3 linked regions of the Homo sapiens genome follow. The protein of the gene in region 1 interacts with the protein of each later gene in a biochemical or structural test. Each region holds a gene or a part of one and is shown in the gene's direction. Other genes may lie near its edges.

Region 1 (7,785 bases):
AGTGGGGCCAGGGACTTTTTGTGCTTGGTTAATTTGGGGGGTCATGGAGGTCAGAGGTGAGATGCAGCCTGTCCCCAGAGAGCCCCATCCTCCCTCTGCTCCCGGGCATGGGCACACAGGACAAGTGTGAGTGTGTTGCTAGGCAGCTGGACATGACATGGCTGCTCTGGCAGCTTGTGCCACCTCGTCAGGCACCGTATGTGTTCCTGCCTGCCTGGGGAGTCCAAGAGAGGAAGGGGGCAGGGAGCCCTGGAGAATGTGCATCTTCCCCTTTCCTTAGGCTTGGCCCACCTCGCCACACGATCTCAGTCAAGGGCCTCTCCTCACCCCATGGGCTTCTATCTCAGCCTTTTCCACTTTGGCAACCCTGGGGGTGAGAGTGAAGGCCTCAAGATGCCTGTCCTGTAGGTATCTCTGGTGAGCAAGGCCGGGGACATGTTACGGGACAAGCTACAGGCTGATTTGTCTCTTCATAGTGTAGATTGCAGAGTGGGACAAATGTTGGGCTCCTCTTCCTCCCTTATGGAGGTAGAATTTGTGTGTGTCAATGCCTGCACCTGAGTGTTCATCCTGATGGGCTTTTACATGTGTGTATACCCATGTAACTACTGCTCTGATCATGTTATAGAATAAGGGTATCCAATCTTTTTGCTTCCCTGGGCCACATTGGAAGAAGAATTTTCTTGGGCCACACCTAAAATACGCTAACACTAATGATAGCTGGTGAGCTAAATAAAACAAGCAAAAATAAAAATAAAAAATAAAGTCACAAAAAAGTCTCATAATGTTTTAAGAAAGTTTATGAATTTGTGTTGGGCCACATTCAAAGCTGCCTGGGCCGCATATGGACTGCAGGTTAGACAAGCATGTTATAGAACATTTCCATCACCTTAGGGGGCTTCCAAGTACCCCCTCCCAGTCCGTGCACCCCAGAGGTAACCACCATTCTGACTCTACCCCAAGGACTACTCTCGCCTGCCTTCATGATGTGGGCTTTTCCCTTAGTCTAGTGGAGATCTGGCCCTTAGCTCAGGGGAGGGAGGCCTGAGGCTAGCCTGTATGTGCAAACCTACTGGCCCTGGAGGCCACTGATGGCTTCAGGTGGTGGCAGGAATTCACCGTAGTAGAGGCCTCCATGGGGTTGGCACTGGTTAACGTGATCCCAGGATCACGCCTGCTACCTCTCCACACATACAGACCCATACCCTGCCGGTGGAGCCAGAAGCGCAGGGGGAGGGCTGACGAGTTCCCTTACAGTTCCTGTCCTTTCCGTCCCAGGTTTGGTCCAAGGAGCTTCTTGACGCAAGGATCCCTTCACCTTAAACTACAATCTGGGTAGTCCCAAGGGCACTTGCACAGAGGGAGGAGACAGAATGGTTAGGGTGGGCGTCCCATCTGTGTCATCCAGAAATGAGCTGACACCAATAGCGGCTGCCCAGACCAGGACAGTGTCCTTTGCCTACCATTCTTCTCAGGTCACCTGGAGGAGAAGGAGAACCCCTCCCCCAGGCTGGGGGAAAGTGCCAGGCAAACCCTTGGACCACACTCCTGCATCCTGGTCTTGGTTACTGCCATAGCCAGGGTCACTCACCACATCTGGTCTGCCCATGGCTTAGGGCTCTGGAGCCATTGGCCGTGGATATATAGTCAGCCTTCCATGCCTGGCTTCTCCGGTAGGACCACAGACCTCAGATCAGCCCATTTATGATCCTGCCCTGGGCGGCTCCCCACTTACAGGAAACCCCACCAAGAGGAATTTGGGCTGCATCATTTCCGGCTTCCTGCCTGGGCTGCTGGAGGTGGCTGGCTGGCAGCCCCCTGACCCAGTGGTGTTTGGAGTGGGGAGAGGGAGGTCTCCACACCTGGGGTGCCTCACTATTTGGGTAAAGCCAGCCCAGAAGTGCATGCTAGGGCTCCCCCTCTTGGCGAAGAAGGCTGGTCCCTTCCTCCTGAGCCCTGGAGTCAGCCCCCCAGGAAGGTGTTGGCGGTCACCTTGGGCATCCCTCTGTTGCCCTGATTGGGAGGGGGTCCCTTAAAAAGCCTAAACCCGCTGCACTCCAGCCTGGGCGACAGAGCGGGACTCCGTCTCAAAAAAAAAAAAAAAAAAAAAGCCTAAACCCAAAGACAGGCCTCTCTCCTTTACTTCCTGTTTTCATGCCTCAGTGGGGGTCACTTGCTGTGGGCAGAGCTCAGGCTGGGCCCCTGACTCAGAGTCTCCTCAATTTTCCTGGGAACTTTGGTGGAAGTCCTTAGAGGGGAAAGGCCTGAGAATTGCCTTCTAGTTGGGAGAGATTCTTATCCCCCTAAGCCTGTCCCTCCCCTGATGGGGATACTTCTGAACACCCTGAGCGCTACAGGGCAAGGCAGAGAGCCAGTCCCCCACCCCCACCCCAGGACAGGGTTTCCTGAGACAGGGTGGGGGCCGCTGGGCAGAGCAAAGTGTCCTGGGAGAGAGGCGCCCTGCCCCCACTCTCAGGCGGCACACAATGGCTGCTTTCTCCCCCGTGACCTTTCCGCAGCCTGAGTCGTATGCAGCTGTCTCCCAAGGGGCCTAGGATGGGTGGCATCTCCTCCACCCTTGAGAAGAACCCCGGAACTCCCACCCAGTCCTGGCCCTGCTTCTTCTCCCAAGTTCACTTTTCCCAAAAGAGTGGAGAGCAGGCTATAGAGGCAGAGGGACAGCAGCAAGTGTGGACATGGCATGGTCTCAGGCATGAAAGTGCCACATCCTGGCAATTCTACTCATTAGCCTCGCATCCTTGAATAAGCCCTTTAACCTCTCTGAGCCACTGTTTCTTCATCACAGAGGTAGCATGTCCTACCTTGCCTGACAGTTGCAAGCAGCATCACACATAATGTACCCAGCTGGTACCTAGTGGGTGCCCAGTCAAGCCCAGCTCCTTTGCTCTGTCCATCTTCCTTAAGAGGGCTCCAGCTTACACCCTCAGTGATGATGGCAGGAGGCTCCAGCATGAAAGGACCTCACCTGCTGGCAGGAGGCCAGAGGCAGGACCTGTGGACGGGTGTGATCTGTCAGGCATGTTTCAACAGCATCTGGCATGCAGCAGCATCTGGGTTGCATCCCCTTGGGGATCCCTTCCTCCCTTCGGGACGGGCTGGGGCAGAGACCTCGTTTCCTGGGAAAAGGCTGAGAGACTGGTAGCAGTGGCTGCAGGGCAGGAAACTGTGCCTGCTGAATGGGCCCTGGGGACTGCATATCCCAGAGGGGTAAGGATGTAGGAAAGGGCATGGCTCTGTCAGCCCCCAGCTGTGAGCTCTTGGGGAGATCCCTCACTGGTAACCTGGCCGTAGTGATGGTCCCAGCTCCTAGGCTGTTGGAGACTGAGTGAGTGAATGTGTGGAGAGTACTAGGCTTGGCACGGGCCAGAGCAGGTGCTCAGGAGGTCTGGCCCATCATCTGGCTCCGGCTGACCCTTGCCCTCACCCTGGCAGACCCTGGCTGGGCATCCATCAGCAGGGGTGTGCTGGTGTGTGACGAGTGCTGCAGCGTGCACCGGAGCCTGGGACGCCACATCTCCATTGTCAAGCACCTTCGCCACAGCGCCTGGCCTCCCACGCTGCTGCAGGTACAGGGCTCAGTCGGGTGGTTCTTCCTTCCCCTCAGGCAGAGTGTGCTGAGCATGAGGGCGTTTCCCCCTCACCCACATACACCCCCATCTGGAATCTGCAGCTTCCAAGGGGCAGCACCCCCCTAGGGCAGAGGCTAATCCTGACCCTTTCCTCCCATCTACTCACTTCATGCAGAAGAGTAGCTCACACCCCTGCTCTGCCACTTATCAACGTGGTCGTGTAGCATTGAGCAAGTTGCTTCACCTCTCTGAGCCTTGGCACACTCATGGGATCTGTGTCTTTGGGCAGCTGGACTAGATGGAGGTGTGGTGGTGCGGGCACACAGTAGGCCCCCTTGGTACCGTTTCCAGCTACGCCAGCCACAGCAGGCGCTCAGGAAGTGTTTCCCCCATTGCTTAGCACGCAGTGGGCACTCTCTCACTTGGCATCTCTTCCCTGCAGATGGTGCACACGCTTGCCAGCAACGGGGCCAACTCCATCTGGGAGCACTCCCTGCTGGACCCCGCACAAGTGCAGAGCGGCCGGCGTAAAGCCAACCCCCAAGACAAAGTCCAGTGAGTGGGGCTGGAGGGGTGGTGGGCAGAGACTGCGCAGTCCGGGACAGGGCCCTGGGAGGTGGCAAGGTGACCACCCTCTCCCACCATGCTCCCCATTCCTCCTGTGTGCCCCATGCAGCCCCATCAAGTCAGAGTTCATCAGGGCCAAGTACCAGATGCTGGCATTTGTGCACAAGCTTCCCTGCCGGGACGATGATGGAGTCACCGCCAAAGACCTCAGCAAGGTTTGAGGGGCCCTACAACAGATGGGTGGCCCCCTCCTCTTCTTCCCATCCACGACTCTCTGAAGGCCTCTCCTTTGTCCCCACTGAGCCCTGGGCCCCAAAGGCAGCCAGGTCAGGGTAACAGTAGACAGGGTGGAGAGAGCAGATTGTTGGGTCAGGCCGTGTGTGGCTGAGGCTCCCCAGCAACCAAGTAGACACACAAGGCTAGAAGCCCACAGCTGCCACTCAGAAGCTGGGAAAACCTGGGGGTAGTTGCTTAGCCACTCATAGCCTCAGTTTACTCATCTGTAAAATGGGAAAGAAATAACAGCATCTACTTCATAAATAGTATCTAAGCAGGGCACACAGCACACGTGGTAGATGGTGACTGACGGCAGCGTTTATTAATTGGCATTAACCCCTAGCGGGAAGCCTCTGTCCTCCCGACATAGTCTGGTTTGGGCAGGCCTCCTTGGAGCTGCTAGGTGTCCCAGGGGCAGCCAGGGTGCAGCTTGTGGGTGGGGAGGTGCGCCTCACGCACATGCGTATTCACTGCACACTCTGCTCCTCTTAGCAACTACACTCGAGCGTGCGGACAGGCAACCTGGAGACATGTCTGCGCCTGCTCTCCCTGGGTGCCCAGGCCAACTTCTTCCACCCAGAGAAGGGCACCACACCTCTGCACGTGGCTGCCAAGGCAGGACAGACACTGCAGGCCGAGCTGCTTGTAGTGTATGGGGCTGACCCTGGCTCCCCTGATGTTAATGGCCGCACACCCATTGACTATGCCAGGTGAGGGTCGGCTGAAGGGTGCAGTGTGGGTGGGTGGGGGTGTGGGTGAGGGCTGCTGCTGCAGGTCTGAGCCATACCCCCTCCTCACAGGCAGGCGGGGCACCATGAGCTGGCGGAAAGGCTGGTTGAGTGCCAATATGAGCTCACTGACCGGCTGGCCTTCTACCTCTGTGGACGCAAGCCGGGTGAGCAGAGCTTGGGGGGCGCCTGGCTGTGACAGGCCTGGCTGGGGCTGGGCAGGTGGGACCTGGACGCACCCGGCAGCAGGTGCCATGGTGACAGAGCGGCTGGGGAGCAATGTTGCTAGGCAACTGGCTCCTGTGAAATTACTGCAGGCTCTGGGCCATAGCATCGCTGGGGCTAGGGAGTGGGGGTGGGCATCCTGCATCCTCCCACGAGCTCCCAGCATTCTTGGGGGTGGCCTGCCCTCCCCACTTTCCCCTGACACTTCTGGGTGCCAGCCCTGCTCATGGCAGTGAGGTGGGCTCCCAGCTGCTGAGGCCACCCAGCACTAGTGAGTGACTTGGCATTTTTATTTTTGTTCAGATCACAAGAATGGGCATTACATCATCCCACAGATGGCTGACAGGTGAGTGCCCACCTGATGCCCCTTTCCAGAGGCTGTTGGATGCCATGTGGGTGGCTGACCCCCAGAGCTCCCAGCCCAGGTTTCAGAGGCCTAGGACCCTGCTCCCTCCCCCCAGAGACTAGAGGCACAGCTTAGTCCTCAGTCCCTAATGCTGGGCCCCAAGGCAGGTAAAAAATGTCAGCTCCATATGTGGCCCGCATAGCCTGAGCCCCGTGACTGTCAAGTACATGGAGGGCTTGGGTGTGAGAAGCTACCTGTGGGCCGGGCGCGGTGGCTCACGCCTGTAATCCCAGCACTTTGGGAGGCCGAGGCGGGCGGATCACCTGAGGTCGGGAGTTCAAGACTAGCCTGGCCAACATGGAGAAACCCCGTCTCTACCAAAAATACAAAATTAGCCAGGCGTGGTGGCGCATGCCTGTATCTCAGCTACTCGGGAGGCTGAGACAGGAGAATCGCTTGAACACAGGAGGTAGAGGTTGCGGTGAGCCGAGAGCACGCCATTGCACTCCAGCCTGAGCAACAAGAGCAAAACTCCAAACTCCGTCTCAAAAAAAAAAAAAAGAAAAAGAAACAGAAGCTACCTCCGGCTGGGAGGGTGGGCCACTGGGTTCTGTCCCAGTGGCACCGACCCCACTGTCTTTAGAGAAGCCTCTGCTCTTCGCTGAAAAGATGGGTGGGCTTCAGGGATGTGACTAACTTTGTGACTGCTGGCTAGGCCTCTAGCGTGCTCAGAATTAGGCACGTGCGCTGAGGCTGGTTGAATGAGGTGTTTCTGCTTCCGTCTGAGAGGCAGTGTGGGACACCCCCTGCCACTCACCCAGCACATAAGATGGATGCTGGTGCCACCTGGTGGCCACCTCTGATGGCCATGTCCTCATGCCAGGCTGTGCCTGCTGGCCTGGATCTGGAGAGAGGAGGTGCTCTCCTCCCCAAGGGCCTGTGTGGGCAGATGGGCATAACCAGGCCTGGGCGACTCAGATCCTAAACCCAGACCTCTTCCAGACCCCAAGGCTCCTACTTCTATGGTCTGATTCTACCTGGGTTGTGTGTGCATGCGTGCATGTGTATGGTAAATACACCCAAATATGGGCTCCATTCAACAGCACATTAACTGAGCACCTTCCCGGAGCCAGCTACTGCTCTTGGCACTGGGAGCACAGAGGCAGCTGAGACACAATCCCTGCCCTTAAGGAGCTCACAATCTAGCTGGGGAGGCAGCCTAGCCAGGTGATTCTAGTCCTCATGGGGGAGTGCAGCAAGAGAGGCAGAGGCATGGAGGGTAGAAATGCTGCATGGGAATGGAGGCAGCCCCCGGGCTGGAGCACAGCATGGGAGGCAGGGAACCCTACAAGCAAGACTGGGATAGAGACGAGCTGGAGAATGAGCAGCCCCGAGAGCATCAGCAGGAGCAGTGACCATCCCGAGAGCGGAGAGTTCCAGGCACAGAAGTGTGAAGTCATCTCTGCTGCTTACTGGCTGTGTGACTTGCAGGCTGCTTGACCTCTCTGAGCCTTGGTTATCTCTCCTGGAAATGGAGATGACAGCATCTATTTTTCAGGGAGGAGAGGATTAGATAAGAATGTATGCAAAATGTTTAGCCTTTTTTTTTTTTTAAGAGTTGGGGTCTCGCTCTGTTGCCCAGGCTGGAGTGCGGTGGCTTGATCATAGCTTACCACAGCCTCAAACGATCCTCCTACCATAGCCTCTTGAGTAGCTGGGACTACAGGCACATGCCACCGTGCTCAGCTAATTTTTAAATTGCTTTTGTATCTCTGTGTTGCCCAGGCTGGTCTCCACCTCCTGGCCTCAAGCGAACCTCCCACCTTGGCCTCCCAAAGTGCTAGGATTACAGGTGTGAGCCACTGTGCCCGTCCCTAGGGTATTCTGATGAAGTATGTTTGGAGTGTGCCATATGCACCTGTTATCACTGCAGTGCCTTAAGGCAAGGGGTAGTGCAGCCAGGTGTATCCAAAAAATCACCCTGGCTGCTGGGTGGAACAGGATTGTAGGGACAAAACTAGAAGGAGGGAGATTAAGAAACTTACAAAGCCCA
Region 2 (7,709 bases), about 12 Mb from region 1:
TAGTCCCAGCTACTCGGGAGGCTAAGGCAGGAGAATTGCTTGAACCCAGGAGGCGGAGGCTGCAGTGAGCTGAGATCATGCCACTGATCTCCAGCCTGGGCGACAGAGTGAGACTCCCTCTCAAAAAAACAAAAAGAAAAGTTAAAGGGGAACCTCTGAGGGCCTAGGCCCTCAAGTCCCCCATTCTCTGCTGATGTAAGGAGGGACTGTACCTGGGTTCTGGGGTGGGGGTGAGGGCTATGGCGGCCACTGCCTGGTTCTGGAGGGGAAGGCCTGGATCAGAGATGGGGGAGGGCCCCCGAAAGGCCTGCAGGAGACAGCAGGACTGCGGCGGGGGTGAGGAGGTCTCCCCTGTTCCTAGTTCAGGGTGCCCCTCCACCCTGCTCCCCTGCAGAAAGTAACCCCGGTGCCTGTCCCCCCCAGGTCCCTGGCACCGACCCTTAGGGGCTCTTTCTATTACCTACCCTGTTCCAGGTGTTTTTTTTCCCAGGGTCAGGCCAGGGGAGGGGGCAGGAGGAGGGGCCTGAGCCACCTGTGTGCTGCCCAGGGCTGGGCACTGGAGTGAATGTGCCCCAGGTTCAGGGGGTGTGCACAATTAGGTGGTGGGTGGTCTGGCTTTGCAGCCTGGCAAGTCTTCTGCACCCTCCCATCCTCTTTCGGATCCAGGAGGGTCCATGGATGCACACTGGGAGGGAGGACAGGAGGCCAAGGGTCTTTGCTGTGTCTGATTTCTCCCCCTAGATGAGAAGCAGGAGAGGGAGGGGGTGGTTGACAGAGGAAAACCACTTGAGAGGCCTGGATCAGAGACTACCCCCAGTCTCCTGGACAGCCCTAGGCTGTCGAAAGGCAGATATCTGTCAGCCAGGCCAAAATGCTTACTTCCAGAATGACGGGCCCTGAGCCCTGGTTTCTCCATTTGTAAAATGGAGTCTCTGTCCCTACTCCACTTTCTGTGGGGCGACTGAGCCTGTAGGTGAGGAAGCCACGTGGGGAGGTATACGGGCTGACACTGCCCTCTGGTGGCCGTAGCCAGAGTTGCTGGCTGCCAGTGCGCTGACCTAGAGGGTGTGGTCAGCTGGGGGAGCTTTCAGGGTCTCCTAACTTCATCTCTGTCTTCTCCATCCCACTGCCTCTGCCTTCTTCCCCGTCAAACTCTCCAGGGGTTTCCCAGGGCTTCTTCCTCATGGGGCCAGAAACAATTTAATTCAGCAGGAGTGTAATAGGCTTCTTCTGTATGCCCTGTTCTGTGCTTGGTGGTTGGGGCTGCAGAGATGTCCAAGGCACAGAGAGACAGTCCAGGAAGCTGGGCTGTGGGAGGACCACTCGGCAGAGCCTATGGAGCTGTAGCCTCACGGAAGCCTGGGCTGTGCCGATGCCCGAACAGCCACCTCCTTATGTTCTTCAACCTCACTGTCGTAGCAAACCCTGGGGTTGTGTGTCTCCTTCAAGCTTTCTGCTGACAAAGAAACCATAGGAAACATGCAGACTTTGGGCTGGGCACAGTGGCTCACGCCTGTAATCCCAGCACTTTGGGAGACCAAGGGGGAGGCGGATCACGTGAGGTCGGGAGTTCGAGACCAGCCTAACCAACATGGAGAAACCCCGTCTCTACTAAAAAGACAAAAGTAGCCGGATGTGGTGACGCATGTTATTGGGGAGGCTGAGGCAGAGGCAGGAGAATTGCTTGAACACGGGAGGTGGAGGATGTGGTGAGCCGAGATCGTGCCATTGCACTCCAGCCTGGGGCAACAAGAGCGAAACTCCGTCTCAAAAAAAGAAAAAAAAAAGAAAGAAAGAAAGAAAGAAAATAAAACATGCAGACTTTGAACAAGGAGGAGAACGGTTATGTTATGAAAGTTCCTCCATTTCCAGAAGTATTCTGGGAGATAAGCTCTCTTTTCTGCACCTGTTTTCTCCTCCCTGAGGGAACATTTCCATCAGCATGTAAACATATTGTCCTCTCTCCCATCTTCAAAACACACTCCCCAGCACTCATGTCCTCCTTCAGCTCCTGTGCCCTTTTCCAGCTCTCCTTTGTTGCAGATTTCTTCAATACAGTTTTCTATACTGTCTCCCTTCCTTCCTTCCTTCCTTCCTTCCTTCCTTCCTTCCTTCCTTCCTCCCTCCCTCCCTCCCTCCCGCCTTCCTTCCTTCCTTCCGACAGGGTCTTGCTCTGTCACCCAGGCTGGAGTGCAGCCTCGACCTGTGCTCAGGTGATCCTCCCACCTCAGCCCCTGAAGTAGTACAGGTATGCACCACCATGCCCAGCTATGTTTTTTTTTTTGAGACGGAGTTTCGCTCTTGTTGCCCAGGTTGGAGTGCAATGGCGCAATCTCGGCTCACTGCAACCTCCGCCTCCCGGGTTCAAGCGATTCTCCTGAGTACCTGGGATTACAGGCACCCGTCACCATGCTCAACTAATTTTTTGTATTTTTAGTAGAGACGGGGTTTCACTATGTTGGCCAGGCTGGTATCAAAATCCTGACCTCAGGCGATCCACCCGCCTAGGCTTCCCAAAGTGCTGGGATTACAGGTGTGAGTCACTGCGCCCGGCCAATTCTTGTATTTTTTTGTAGCGAAAGGGTTTTGCCATGTTGCCCAGGTTGGCCTCAAATTCCTGGGCTCAAGCAATTCACCCTCCTAAGCCTCCCAAAGTGCTGGGATTATAGGTGTGAGCCACAGCGCCTAGCCTTCTTTCTGTTTTCATTTTGTTACCTCTCGTTATTTCCTCACTCCTCTTTGGTCTCTCTCACCCCCTCTACCAAGACCGCTCTTTTTTTTTTTTTTTTTTTTTTTGAGACAAGTCTTGCTCTGTTGCCCAGGCTGGAGTGCAGTGGTGCAATCTCGGCTCACTGAAACTTCTGCCTCCTGGGTTCAAGCAATTCCCCTGCCTCAGCCTTCCAAGTAGCTGGGCTTACAGGCTTGTTCCACCACACCGAGCTAATTTTTGTATTTTAGTAGAGATGGGGTTTCACTATGTTGGCTGGGTTGGTCTCAAACTCCTGACCTCAGGTGATCCACCTGCCTTGGCTTCCCAGAGTGCTAGGATTACAGGTGTGAGCCACTGTGCCTGGCCCCGCAAGACCGCTCTTGCCGAGGCCATGACCCCAGCTCACCAAGGTTGCCCATGACCCCAGTTTGCCAAGCTGAGTCTCTGTCCTCAGTCTTTGCCTGGCCCAACAGCACCACCCAACACAGGTGGCCACTCTCTACATGAAACATTTTCTTTACTTTCTAGGACCCAACTTTCCTGGTTTTCCTCTACTTCACTGCCCCACTCATCCCAGTCTTCCTTTGATGCCTCCTCTTCTTCTTTCTGCCCTCTGAATCCTAGGGGGTTAGTCCTGGGCGCTCTTACCTGTCTTCTCTCAGTCTCTTGGGGATCTCACCAGTCTCATAGCTTTAAATGGTCATCAAAGAACAATGACTCCTACATTTAAATCTCCAGCCCGGTCTCTCCCCTACATTCAGATTTATACATCTAATTGTCTACCCAACATTTCCAGTAGGATACTTAAAAAAAAAGTATTCTATTTATTTATTTATTTTGAGGGGTAGGCTCGCTCTGTAGCCCCAGCTGGAGTGCATTGGCACAATTTCGGTTCACTGCAACCTCTACCTTCCAGGTTCAAGCAATTCTCCTGCCTCAGCCTCTTGAGTAGCTGGGACTACAGGCACACGCCACCATGCTTGGCTAATTTTTGTATTTTTAGTAGAGACAGGGTTTCACCAGGTGGCCAGGCTTGTCTGGAACTCCTGACCTCAGGTGATTCGCCTGCCCCGGCCTCCCAAAGTGCTGGGATTACAGGCGTGAGCCACTGCGCCCGGCTACAGGGAGACTTTTAAGAGGCGTCTCCCAAGGAGAACAGGGGTTCGCCAGCATGGCAAGAGGAGGGCAAAGCGAACTAGGGTTGGAGGTGAAGAACAGTTAATCCAATCAAATGGAAGACGTCGAGTGGCGCGAGCACTGGGGTGTGAGCGCGAGGGTCAGGGTTGCAGCGCCAGGCAGGGTTGCAGCGCCAGGCAGGGTTGCAGCGCCAGGCAGGGTTGCAGCGCCAGGCAGGGTTGCAGCACGTTGGAAGCGCACTGGAGTTTGGAATGTCTCTCCCAGTCAACCGGGAAAGACGCAGCGCTGCCCTAATGCACTGGCCACCCCAGACCGTATGCACAACGTTGGGTTGGCAGCTTCTACACCAGGGAAGGCACCCGAAACCCCGGCGCGGCAGCTGGGGAGGGGCTGCCCCCAGCCAGGGACCCGCGAGTGCTGGGGCAGCCGCGGCTTTGGGCAGAACCATTCTCCGGAGATGGAGAGGGCAGAAAAAATCTTTCGCTCCCATCCCAACTCGGAGCCATCCGGAACTTGCACTCGCCCTTCTTGCCCTGCTTTTCTTACTGTGCTCTGTTCCGTCACCACTAGCTCCCCTCCCGCGCGGCTCTGAGTCCCGCTTGCCACTAGTTGCTTCTCGGCAGCCCCCACCCCTACGCGTGGTCCGGCCCGGCGGCTGGCGCAGGTTATAAAGGTCCCGCCGCAGCAGCGGACGGCAGACTCGAGATGCGCCCGAAGAGGTTGGGCCGGTGCTGCGCGGGGAGCCGGCTCGGACCCGGGGACCCAGCAGCACTCACCTGTGCACCTTCGCCCTCAGCCAGTCCCGCTCCGGAGCCCTCTGCGCAGCCGCAGGCACGGGGCACTGGACAGAGAGTAGGATCCCGAGCCACCTCTGGATCCCAGTTCCTCTCGGAAGCCCGCACCGGAGCTCGCCCGGCCTCGGAGGCTGGAGCCAAGGCAGGAGCCCGGCGCCCGTCCGCATTCTCGGCCATCCAAGGGGATGTCCGGTCTATGCCCGACAATTCGGACGCGCCGTGGACCCGCTTCGTATTCCAAGGGCCGTTTGGTTCCCGGGCCACTGGCCGGGGGACTGGAAAGGCAGCGGGCATCTGGAAGACGCCAGCCGCCTACGTTGGCCGGCGACCCGGGGTGTCCGGCCCTGAGCGCGCCGCCTTTATTCGGGAGCTGGAGGAAGGTAAATCGGGCCCCCGGGGTCCTGGACCGGGTGGGGACTGGGGCAACTCCAGGGAGGAAGTGGCCCCATCGGGTCCAGGCACCCCGCCCCCTCTAGCACTCAGTGTCACCCGTCCACCACCCCCGCGATGTCACTGCGGTGTCTGTCTGGTCGCCCCTTCTCCATCTCCTCCTCTGCTCTTGTCCCCTGGTTTGTGCCCGTGAGTCAGGTTCTGGGGCCTGCACGCTCGCCCACCCACCTCCACGCGCCTCTTGCTGCGGCAGATCTGCACCCCTTCAGCGCCCCTCTCCTGGGTCTACCGCAGTGCCAGGAGAGGGGCGGGGGGCTGCGGGAGGGCGCTGTCCCGCGCGCTCTGAGTCTGCGCTGGCCGACCGGGCTTGCGTGCGATGGAGGGGTGGGTGGGCGGGCGGAGGGGGAAGTTTTGCCCACTTTTTGGTTGCGGGTATGGGGGCAAAGTCGCGCTCTTTTCCTGCCCCTTGTCTCTCCTATCCTCCTGCGGGTCGGGGGAGATCTCTGGATTGGGCCTAGAGGCTCGAGTGTCTCCTAATCTGGTGAAGTCTTCCTCCTGTCCTCTGCACACGCAACAGGTGCAGGGTGAGTGGCTGCGTCTGTTTGTATGACCCAGGAGACTCCATTGCACTGCCTCCTGGGTAGGGGGTGATGAGCCAGTCTGAGGCTGTACTTCCCCTGGCTGTCTCCATTCTAGGCGCCAGGGACCCAGGTGTCCGGAGAGCCCAGTTTCTGAGCCTGGAGGACTGTGACCCCCTTACCTCAGGCTCCTCCAGGGGTAAAAAAAAAAAAAAAAAAAAAAAAGCCGGGCGCGGTGGCTGACGCCTGTAATCCCAGCCAGCACTTTGGCAGGCCGAGGCGGGCGGATCACTAGGTCAGGAGTTCGAGACCAGCCTGGCCAACATGGTGAAACCCCGTCTCTACTAAAAATACAAAAATAAGCTGGGCGTGGTGGCGGGCGTGTATAACCCCAGCTACTCGGGAGGTTGAGGCAGGAGAATTGCTTGAATCTGGGAGGCAGACGTTGCAGTGAGCTGAGATCTCGCCATCGCACTCCAGCCTGGAGGACAAGAGCAAGGCTTTGTCTAAAAAAAAAAAAAAACCAAAAAAAAAAAAAACCAAAAAAAACCCAAAAACCTAAAAACCCTGTCCACTTGGCCCTGGGAGCAGGGAAGGGAGTGTTGAGTGCCGAGGGGTAAGGGGAGGATGTGGGGGGCAGGAGGGGAGCCCAGTCTTCTCTCCCGATGACCCTTGTTGGAGAACTGACGATAGGACGGGAAACAGCTGTTTGCTGGTAGCATCTGCTCCTTTTTCCTGACCTGGCTGGGCCTTTTCTCCCCACCTGCCGCCTCCTGCAGCACTGTGTCCTAACCTACCTCCGCCAGTCAAAAAGATCACCCAGGAAGACGTCAAAGTGATGTTATATTTGCTGGAGGAGGTGTGTACTGCCTTCCTGATCCAGGCAAGCCCTTATTCTAGTTTTGTCCTGTAGGGGTGGGGGTCTTGTTTATTTCCTGATTGGCAGTCTCTCTGGGGCCCCAGGTTAGGGTCCTTCTTATGGAAGACAGGTCGATGTGGGATGTTCAGGCTGGAAGAGCTCTCAGAGCCAATCTGGTCTGATCTTCTTTTTCCATGAGGGGAAACTGAGCCAGGTTCCACAGTGGGTTAATGGCAGACTCTGGTCTGGTACCCTAGAGAACTAGGGGATGGGGAAGGTTCTCTTAGGGGCCTAGCCTCTCTCTGACCCCTGTGTCCCCCCCAGCTTCTCCCACCTGTCTGGGAGAGCGTTACCTATGGGATGGTCCTGCAGAGAGAGAGGGACCTGAACACTGCAGCTCGCATCGGCCAGTCCCTGGTGAAACAGAACAGTGTTTTGATGGAGGAGAACAGCAAGCTGGAAGCCCTGCTGGGCTCAGCCAAGGAGGAGGTAACCGGGTGGGGAGGAGAGGATAGCGGGCCAATCTACACCTGCCTCATGCCAGGACCCTCTCCTGTCCCTGCCCACTCCCAACCCATGGCTCCTCTCTCTTCCTGCCAGATTTTATACCTCAGACACCAGGTGAACTTGCGGGATGAGCTCCTCCAGCTCTACTCAGATTCTGATGAGGAGGATGAGGATGAAGAAGAGGAGGAGGAAGAAAAGGAGGCAGAAGAGGAACAGGAAGAAGAAGAAGCAGAGGAAGACCTGCAGTGTGCTCATCCCTGTGATGCCCCTAAGCTGTGAGTTCCTGCCTTTGCACCTGCAAGTCCTTTCTCTGAGCCTCAATTTCCTCATTTGTTAAGAGGGACACAGGTGATGTGCTTGCTGGCAGGGTTGCTGGAACTAATTGAGAACACTGCCCTTAGCCCTGGTGGGCTGGGAACTGGGAAGCCCCACTCCCTGCACCCTGACTCCCATTCCTCCCTCCCCTAGGATTTCGCAGGAGGCATTGCTGCACCAGCACCACTGCCCACAGCTGGAAGCCTTGCAGGAGAAGCTGAGGCTGCTGGAGGAGGAGAATCATCAGCTGAGAGAAGAGGTGAGAATGGGGGAGGAGGGCGTCCCTGCTAGCAGGGGGTGTTGACTTCCCTGTCCCTTCCTCTTTGTCTCCCTCCAGGCCTCTCAACTCGACACTCTTGAGGATGAGGAACAGATGCTCATTCTGGAGTGTGTGGAGCAGTTTTGTACGTAATGTTGTC
Region 3 (7,785 bases), on another chromosome or scaffold:
GAAAGGCGACTGGATGAAGTAAGTCCACCTGTTATTCAAAAGAGATCTGAGAGAGTAAAAGAAAAATGATAGAACATCTTTGTTTTTAAGGAATAGTGCTTGGAAATTAATCAAATGACTGTTCTATGGTTAGAATCAATAATTTTCTCCAGGTTTGTTGTTAAATATTCAATCTTATTACTTAATTTTGGAAAGAGCTATATTAATTCATAAATATTATCATTTCAGCAGGTAGAGATACTAAACAGTAATTTACAAAACATTTTTATGAGTCGTGACTGCAAAACGTTGGGCAACATTATTTTAAAAAATTAGAAAAAAGTTAAAACACTAATGTTGATAAATTCAGCTTTTTAATAAAGAGTGCGTGTATTTCTTAAATATCAGTATATCTTGCCAGGAAATTTTAGAAAATTAAAATGAGGATAAAACTTGCTTCAATAAATGGAAAGCTTTTTATTATTTTATATATTGATACTGAGTTTTCCTTCAAAACAGATTAATAACATTTTAACAGTCATAGAATTTGAAAGCTATATTGAATATAAGAATCGCTATATAATATGTGCATATTAAGTTATTTGGAAAATAATAAACATGTAAGTAGCCTCCCGAGATGAATGAATACAAGGGATATCAGCAAATGCTGTGGACTGTAGACATTTTAATAGTCTTTCTGAGTTTTTCTACAGGGTCTTTCTGGAAGAAGTGGGAAGGAAACCTGAGCATGAAATAGAAAATAAAGAGATGCATAATTCTGTGTTGCAAAGTACAGGTGTTCCTTACTACAAAGACAAGCTGATTAAAATTATTTTGTGAAGACCTCAGCAAATTCAAATATGGACCAATCATTCTATATTCAAATAGGCAGGACAGATAATCTTGGTATTATAAAATCCACTCTGTCCTTTATGGTGGGGATTATAGAGAGATAAGTTCTACAGTCTTGAACTCAGCTAACTTCTGATAAATTCATGCTCTTATTCAATCAGCATAATGATTAATATTTTTAAAAGCCTCGTCTTATAAGTTGCATGACAGTCTTTTAAATCCTTACTAGAAATTATTGATTCAAAAAGGTAGTCTTATAAACTCATACATCTTAAAATACAATTATTCTTACTTATAAGTTGCAAAAATTTCTAATAAAAAATTATTGAAGAGTTGTCATATTGCTACATTCTCTTAGGAGCTGTCCAGGTGTGGGGTAGCTTCTTAATAGTAATGAACTAGAAGAAAAGTCTATTGAGCCAATTAAACGAGATGCGACTCGTTGTCTTTAAACTATGCTGCTGCTTTTTCTTATTTTTAAAAGCACAAAATAGAATTTTGTCATTTAAACCCTCTAGTCTCTTTTGTTCAATTTTATTTTATTTTTTAGTGTGAGCAAAAATAGCCAACTTACTTAGAACAGTAGTGGACTTATTTCTGCGGTTTTGCTGATCACATTCAGATTCCACTGAAATAATCTGAGAGGTGTCAACAAGCTTATACAGACTTTGACCCCAATTAAAAGAATTAACCCTATCTCATGAAAAGTTTTCCCCATGATGTTGTTGTTTATAGTTCTATCAACTTTCTGCAGTAACAATATGTTGAAAGAACAGAAGTCAGGAATCATAATTCAAACGCTTAACTCTAAAAACTGGCAATTTTTTTTTTTTTTTTTTTTTTTTTTGACAGAGTTTCGCTCTTGTTGCCCAGGCTGGAGTGCAATGGTGTGATCTCGGCTCACCACAACCTCCGTCTCCTGGGTTCCAGCGATTCTCCCACCTGAGCCTCCCAAGTAGCTGGGATTACAGGCATGTGCCACCACACCCATCTAATTTTGTATTTTTTAGTAGAGACAGGGTTTCTCCATGTTGGTCAGGCTGGTCTGGAACTCCTGACCTCAGGTGATCCGCCCACCTCAGCCTCCCAAAATGCTGGGATTACAGGCGTGAGCCACCACGCCCAGCCAAAACTGGCTTATTTTTAAGCCCCTAGCTACGACACTGTAAGGAGTTGTGTAGCTCTACAGTGTAACATAGTGTTTTATAAAACTGAAGACTATTTATGCTTAATGCAAAAACTTCTCCAAGAATCAAGAAGTCGTAGAGGCTGCAACTGTGAAATTCTGTTTCTTTTCTACATTTACACACATTTGGAGATCTAGGGCAATGAAAAACACAGCAGTTGGGAAGAGTAGCGGACATCTCTTAATGTGCAAAATGGCTACCACACTGAAACAAAATGTAGATTTTAATGATGATAAGGATTGAAACAGTGGATATATGTTATTATATAAAAATGATTTTATTTTTCCCTGATTGACTTTAAATGTCCCTTAATTAATATAGCAGTCTACAAAGCCTACCTTATAGAATTATTCACTATAACATAGCACAAATTACTATGTTGAGTGAATATAGACTTATTATTCCAAATGCCAGAATGAAATCAAATGAGATATTAGGATACACAACATATACTTGGCTATACCTATCTATGGCATAGATAGTCCTTCCCTAGATAAGAAACAGTGAGATGAGAAGACAAGACCTATGTGGAATGATTCATATTTTCCTTGGAATTAGACACAGAATATTCATTGACTGCTGAATTATATATTGCTACTTGCCAATTTGGAGGAAAATAATTATGTCTGTAAAAGTACTTTATGTACACAAAGAGAAGGAAGAGATTATTTTATTAAGGCATAACAAAATCAGCAACCAGAATTAAAATGTAATTGCTATGCTACATTCTAAAATGTGGATTCACCCTAGGATCTGTCCAAGTAGAGACACTAGCCTATGTGGGGTATGATGTTGCTTCCTGATAGTAATGAACTAGAGAAAAAGTCTACTGGGCCAATTAAATGGGATGTGACTCTCTGCCTCTGTGTATATTAAAATACACATTATTAAAATGTAACCAGGGTAATATTATGCTTTCGGTGGTACCCAAAGACCACATGTACTTATTGAAAGGATGGTGTCCAGGCTACACAGATTTTTCAACAAATTGCAAGTTAATTCTGTGTCACCTAAAACTTCACAAATCACATATTTAGAGTTTCTTGTACAGATATTATAATAGGCTACAGTGTCTCATATTAGCCATGCCATCTCAAATATAGATTTCCCCAAAATAAATACCTACATTGTATTTGTGTACATAGAAGTCATTTCATTCAAGTGTGTGAGTTAAATGTAGTCTACTCAACAACTGATTCAATTAAGTATATCATCTCTTTCCATAAAACCCGTCGGCATAAAGTGGAACAATGTATATACAATATTTATTTTGGAAAACATTGGTTGCTTATTTTAGGCTTTCAAGGATATTTACTGTATAGATGTCAGACCTTAAATTTGAAATTGTATGAAAAGTTTTATTTAAAAATTTATATATCAAATCTCCTATAGTCTTGTTTTGGAATCATAGAACTAACTATCTTGATAAAGCGTGATTCCATACGTATACTTGACAGACTAAATGTAAATAATCTATGTTACATGTTTCTAAGCACAGAGCTTTAAGCACATGGACTAGTTTACTTGTTTTCATAACATCACCTTATAACTGTACTGGCAGAGTGATGACAAGAACTTCAGACGTGGATCAACCTGGAGAAGGCAGTTTCCTCCTCGTGAAGTACATGGAATCAGCATGATGCCTGGGTCCTCAGAAACATTACCAGCTGGATTTAGGTTAACCACAACCTCTGGGCAGTCAAGAAAAATGACAACAGATGGTACAGTAGTTTTGCATTGCTGCTTATCAAGCAAAAAGCTTGTTTAGCCAAAGCTAGTATAATTCTCTGACCTTGCTTTTTGGAATTATTTTCTTGAGTTGGTTTGCTCTGCTTGAAATTTACTTTGCTCTCATCACAAACCAGACTCCTTTTTACACTGCTATTGCATGAACTCATGGCACTTTATTCACATTTTCAAAATAATTTATAACATCCCAAAAAGAACAATTTGGTTAATGTCCACCTCTAGGAGGAACAATAAACATCGGCAGGATTTGTGTTTCTTTAGTCTTCTATTCCCAAAATTAACAATTTGTTTAAGTTAGAGGTTGGACTTGGACTAAAGATCCATAGTAAATGGAAATTAACTCCACTGTCTCCCTACATGTTTAAATACTGCGAGTTTTATATGTCATCTTAGAAATTCACTCATCAAATATTTTTCCCTCTAGCCAAAGCAGAAGCCCTTAAATAAACAAGCCATGAACATGAGAAGAGAATTAAAGAAACACAAAACACAGTAATTTCCCAATTACTATTTCCTTCTGTGGACATTAGACTTAAGCTATCTAATTTACAAAAGAAAAGTCATTCCAGAGGAGAGACAACTTTGAAATAGTAGTCACAAAATTATTTCTGTTTGGGAGGCATTAAAGAAAAATAGTCCCATGCTATTTGTTAAGATAATCACCTAGCATCATTATTTCTTGTCAAGGTCACAGTTATTATAACTCAAATTTAGTTCCAACATAAACTGTGATCTTGATCTACATTTCTTACAACTTGTTAATACGGTGGAACATGTCAGCGAAATTCATGAGGAATTTAACATCATTACAATTAGTGTAGAAGTTCTTCAATACTTGGAAAGGAAAAAAAATCCACTATAATGAGTTCTCTAAGAGCAATCTCCATATCAAAATCAGAAGCACCCTCGGGAGCTGCTCTTGTTACCGATTTTATCTAAGGAAGAATACATAACAACTCAAAAGCTCAGGTCATTTACATTGGGATAAATTTTCATTAGGAACTTGATCTAGAGAAGAGGAATGTGAGTGGCTTATATCTGAGAGAAAGAAGGTCTACTAATATGTTCGGAATCCCTGTATGCAGGGAAAATAAATCTTTCTCATCTGAAATCTTGTACTCAATCATCCAAGTCCCTCTAAAGCCCTTTTCTCCATTTGCAGTTGCTTCATCAAGACTGCAGAGGTTAGACAACTCCACTGTTCGCACATACTCATGTTGACCAGCCACTCAAAGGAGGCAGCACTGACCTGCTGTGAGTAGTTTCCCTTTGGCTGACAAAAAAAAAAAGACAAAAAAATGGAACCTACATAGACTAATAAATATACACTATACTCTTTGGTATGCCCTAGCAGTACAGAAATGAGATAACCCTTTTGAATTGCTTCAGGGGAAAAAGAAATCTTCATATTGTAACACTTAGTCTAGCATTTCCTATCACCATCTGTCTCCTGTGGTTTAAGGTCTGCCTGTTGGAGGCCTATCACTGTATTATTACACATCAATGGGTTGCCACTACACTGTTTTCTACTTTTTAGTACCATTTCCTGTTGAGTAACTTAGCATTTTATTGATAATAATTCAGCACTTTAAAAAATCCTATCTTTTTAAGTGTATATTTTATATAAGGAAGCCAAGGTAGCGGATAGGGATTTAAGCAAGTTCACCGAGTCAAATAGCAACAGACAGGAAAATGATTTAGAGATGGTTTCATATTAAAAAATAGAAACTTGCCGAGGCAGGTGGATCACTTCAGGTCAGGAGTTAGAGACCAGCCTGGCCAACATGGTGAAACCTCATCTCTACTAAAAACACAAAAAGTAGCCAGGCATGGTGTTGCACTCCCATAATCCCATCTACTTGGGAGGCTGAGGCAAGAGAGTCACTTGAACCTGGGAGGCAGAAGTTGCAGTGAGCGATGGTGCCACTGCACTCAAGCTTGGGTGACAGAGCATGACTCCGTCTTAAAATAAATCAATAAATAAATAGTAGAAACTGTGAAAAATTCAAACCTTTATTACATTGTTTCTTATCAATCTGATTTACACTTGCTAAAAACAAATATAAATTTTAAGTATTTAAGACATATAGGAACAAAATAAAATTACTTTAAGAATGGAGAATAGGACCAGCACAAAACCTTCCTATGTAACCATAAATACCAAGCATTTGATTTTAAGGAAATACCAATTAATGAAAGCTACTTTAAAATCCATATAAAAATGAGGTTTTATTGAAAAACAGTCTTAATAGTAAAACTGTGGTTTCTTAGATTTATAAATGTCAAATGTTCATAATTTTTTTTCAACCTAAAACTATGCTTTACCAAAATATTTAACCACTTTCGATGAATCAATATTTTAGAAAAATACTTTTTAAGAGCGATATTTAGAACAAAATGTGTGCACAGGGTTAAGAGAAAACAGTTATAGACAGAGGAACAACTCACCTTGTGCTGTTTTCATTGCCTTGAACTAAAAGTGCCACACAATTTATTGTTGGTCTTTTGGGCTTAGGATGGGAGCAGATATGCTGCCTTATTTGGATCACTATTTGAAGCTGATAAAATGAAAAGCATCCCGATAAGAGATTTAATTTCAGAATGTACAACCCTTACATTAAAATTTTAATTATGGTATATAATTTGGCACCTAATTAGACATGATTTAAAGTATATAATAATTTGGCTAAATAAGAGGTCTCCCAAAATACTGTTTATATTAGATTCTACACATAGCATTATAATTTCTTCAGGAAATGAACACTTCACTAATTTACAAATGACTATTTAATATGTTCAATAGTGCTTGCTTCTTAGCTCTTAAGTGATGGGTAGAGTTACTCTATTTGCAATCTGTTTTTTGTGCATGACATTCTAGTTCATATTTCCTAGTTTTTACCATTAATTGGGATAACAGTATTCATTTACAATAATTCAATCTAGGACAACCATTTTTTGTTTGGGTGAAACAACAACACTTTTGATATTAAAATAATCCAGAGCATACTACTTGCTGTTTCTTTTGTGTCAGTAATAGCAATTGTGAGCTTTTTCTAAGTACATTATGGCTGAAAACAATCAGCAATGCCATACTACTGACACAAACGTTTACAATAGGTGACTTATTATCGTTATGTTTTTGTAACAAATAAAGGTATTTTTTAAGAACTCTAAAATATATGAACTAGAATATAAATCTACATTATGAAATAGGTCAATTCAACCCAATTTATTAATTAGCAAGTTGTAAATTTTTCAGAAGGCATGCTAACATTTTGCATAACTACCTTTGTTTACATTACTGCCATACTTTCCACAAAGTTGAGCAAATTCTATTATTTGTTAAGCTCCCCTGCACCAAATTGGAGAAAAGCAAATGTTAATTACATACGGCTGTTGGCTACATCCTAGATGATTTCCTTCTCATGATCTTCTAGGACAGGAGTAAGCAGGCTGCGTGGAGGTACACCACAGAGGAGTAGAATGAGATTTCCCAGTCTGGGACTTTTCAGTGAACTAATGCTATCCATTGTATATTTTAGATGGCGTCTTTTCAGTCTACTCTACCTAAAGTGCACTACCATCTAAGAAGACGAGCAGTGAAAACCTTTGTGAAAACTGAATTCTAAGGAAATAATGACGTCATGACTTATTAAAAGCTGAAAAATGTGATTTTTGGGGGGAGTCAGATATTACATTTGATTAGTTTACTACAAATTGTAATAAAATGCTTAAGTCATTTGAATAATAAACATCATCTACATCATAAACTCTGTACAACAGATGCTTTTATGAAATGAAGCCAGTTGTTTTTCATGTTTTATTGTAATATACTAGGCATTTATGTATTACCGTGCATTTCTTTTTAAATGTGTAAGTCTTATGTAAATGGATATAAATATGATTTTTTAAAAAATAAAATATATGGTTCATGGAGTCTCGAGTGCAAACATTTGACAATTCCAAGTACTGTTTGTATTTTACCATTCCACCATTTTTACAGTTTTTGGATTGTTAA

The links.
Region 2: the proteins of GIT1 (region 1) and HAP1 form a complex in vitro, tested with the Homo sapiens proteins (one study listed by BioGRID).
Region 3: the proteins of GIT1 (region 1) and PPFIA2 form a complex in vitro, tested with the Homo sapiens proteins (one study listed by BioGRID).

Annotation. Positions count from the first base shown.
Region 1 is NC_000017.11:29,579,285-29,587,069, reverse strand, and holds part of GIT1 (ARF GTPase-activating protein GIT1), read left to right. Parts: intron 1-3,453; coding exon 3,454-3,587; intron 3,588-4,032; coding exon 4,033-4,145; intron 4,146-4,266; coding exon 4,267-4,372; intron 4,373-4,729; exon of another isoform or gene 4,730-4,925; coding exon 4,926-5,143; exon of another isoform or gene 5,144-5,233; coding exon 5,234-5,328; exon of another isoform or gene 5,329-5,689; coding exon 5,690-5,732; exon of another isoform or gene 5,733-6,965; coding exon of another isoform or gene 6,966-7,279; intron 7,280-7,785. Other genes in the region: TP53I13 (tumor protein p53-inducible protein 13), read right to left, coding at 6,966-7,279. UniProt on the Homo sapiens protein: GTPase-activating protein for ADP ribosylation factor family members, including ARF1.
Region 2 is NC_000017.11:41,731,478-41,739,186, reverse strand, and holds the start of HAP1 (huntingtin-associated protein 1), read left to right. Parts: upstream 1-4,543; 5' UTR 4,544-4,552; coding exon 4,553-5,021; intron 5,022-6,388; coding exon 6,389-6,468; coding exon of another isoform or gene 6,469-6,492; intron 6,493-6,792; coding exon 6,793-6,957; intron 6,958-7,068; coding exon 7,069-7,250; intron 7,251-7,443; coding exon 7,444-7,549; intron 7,550-7,627; coding exon 7,628-7,694; intron 7,695-7,709. UniProt on the Homo sapiens protein: Originally identified as neuronal protein that specifically associates with HTT/huntingtin and the binding is enhanced by an expanded polyglutamine repeat within HTT possibly affecting HAP1 interaction properties.
Region 3 is NC_000012.12:81,259,185-81,266,969, reverse strand, and holds part of PPFIA2 (liprin-alpha-2), read left to right. Parts: coding exon 1-18; intron 19-3,579; coding exon 3,580-3,739; intron 3,740-4,929; coding exon 4,930-4,988; 3' UTR 4,989-5,021; intron 5,022-5,759; exon of another isoform or gene 5,760-7,309; coding exon of another isoform or gene 7,310-7,338; 3' UTR 7,339-7,785. UniProt on the Homo sapiens protein: Alters PTPRF cellular localization and induces PTPRF clustering. May regulate the disassembly of focal adhesions.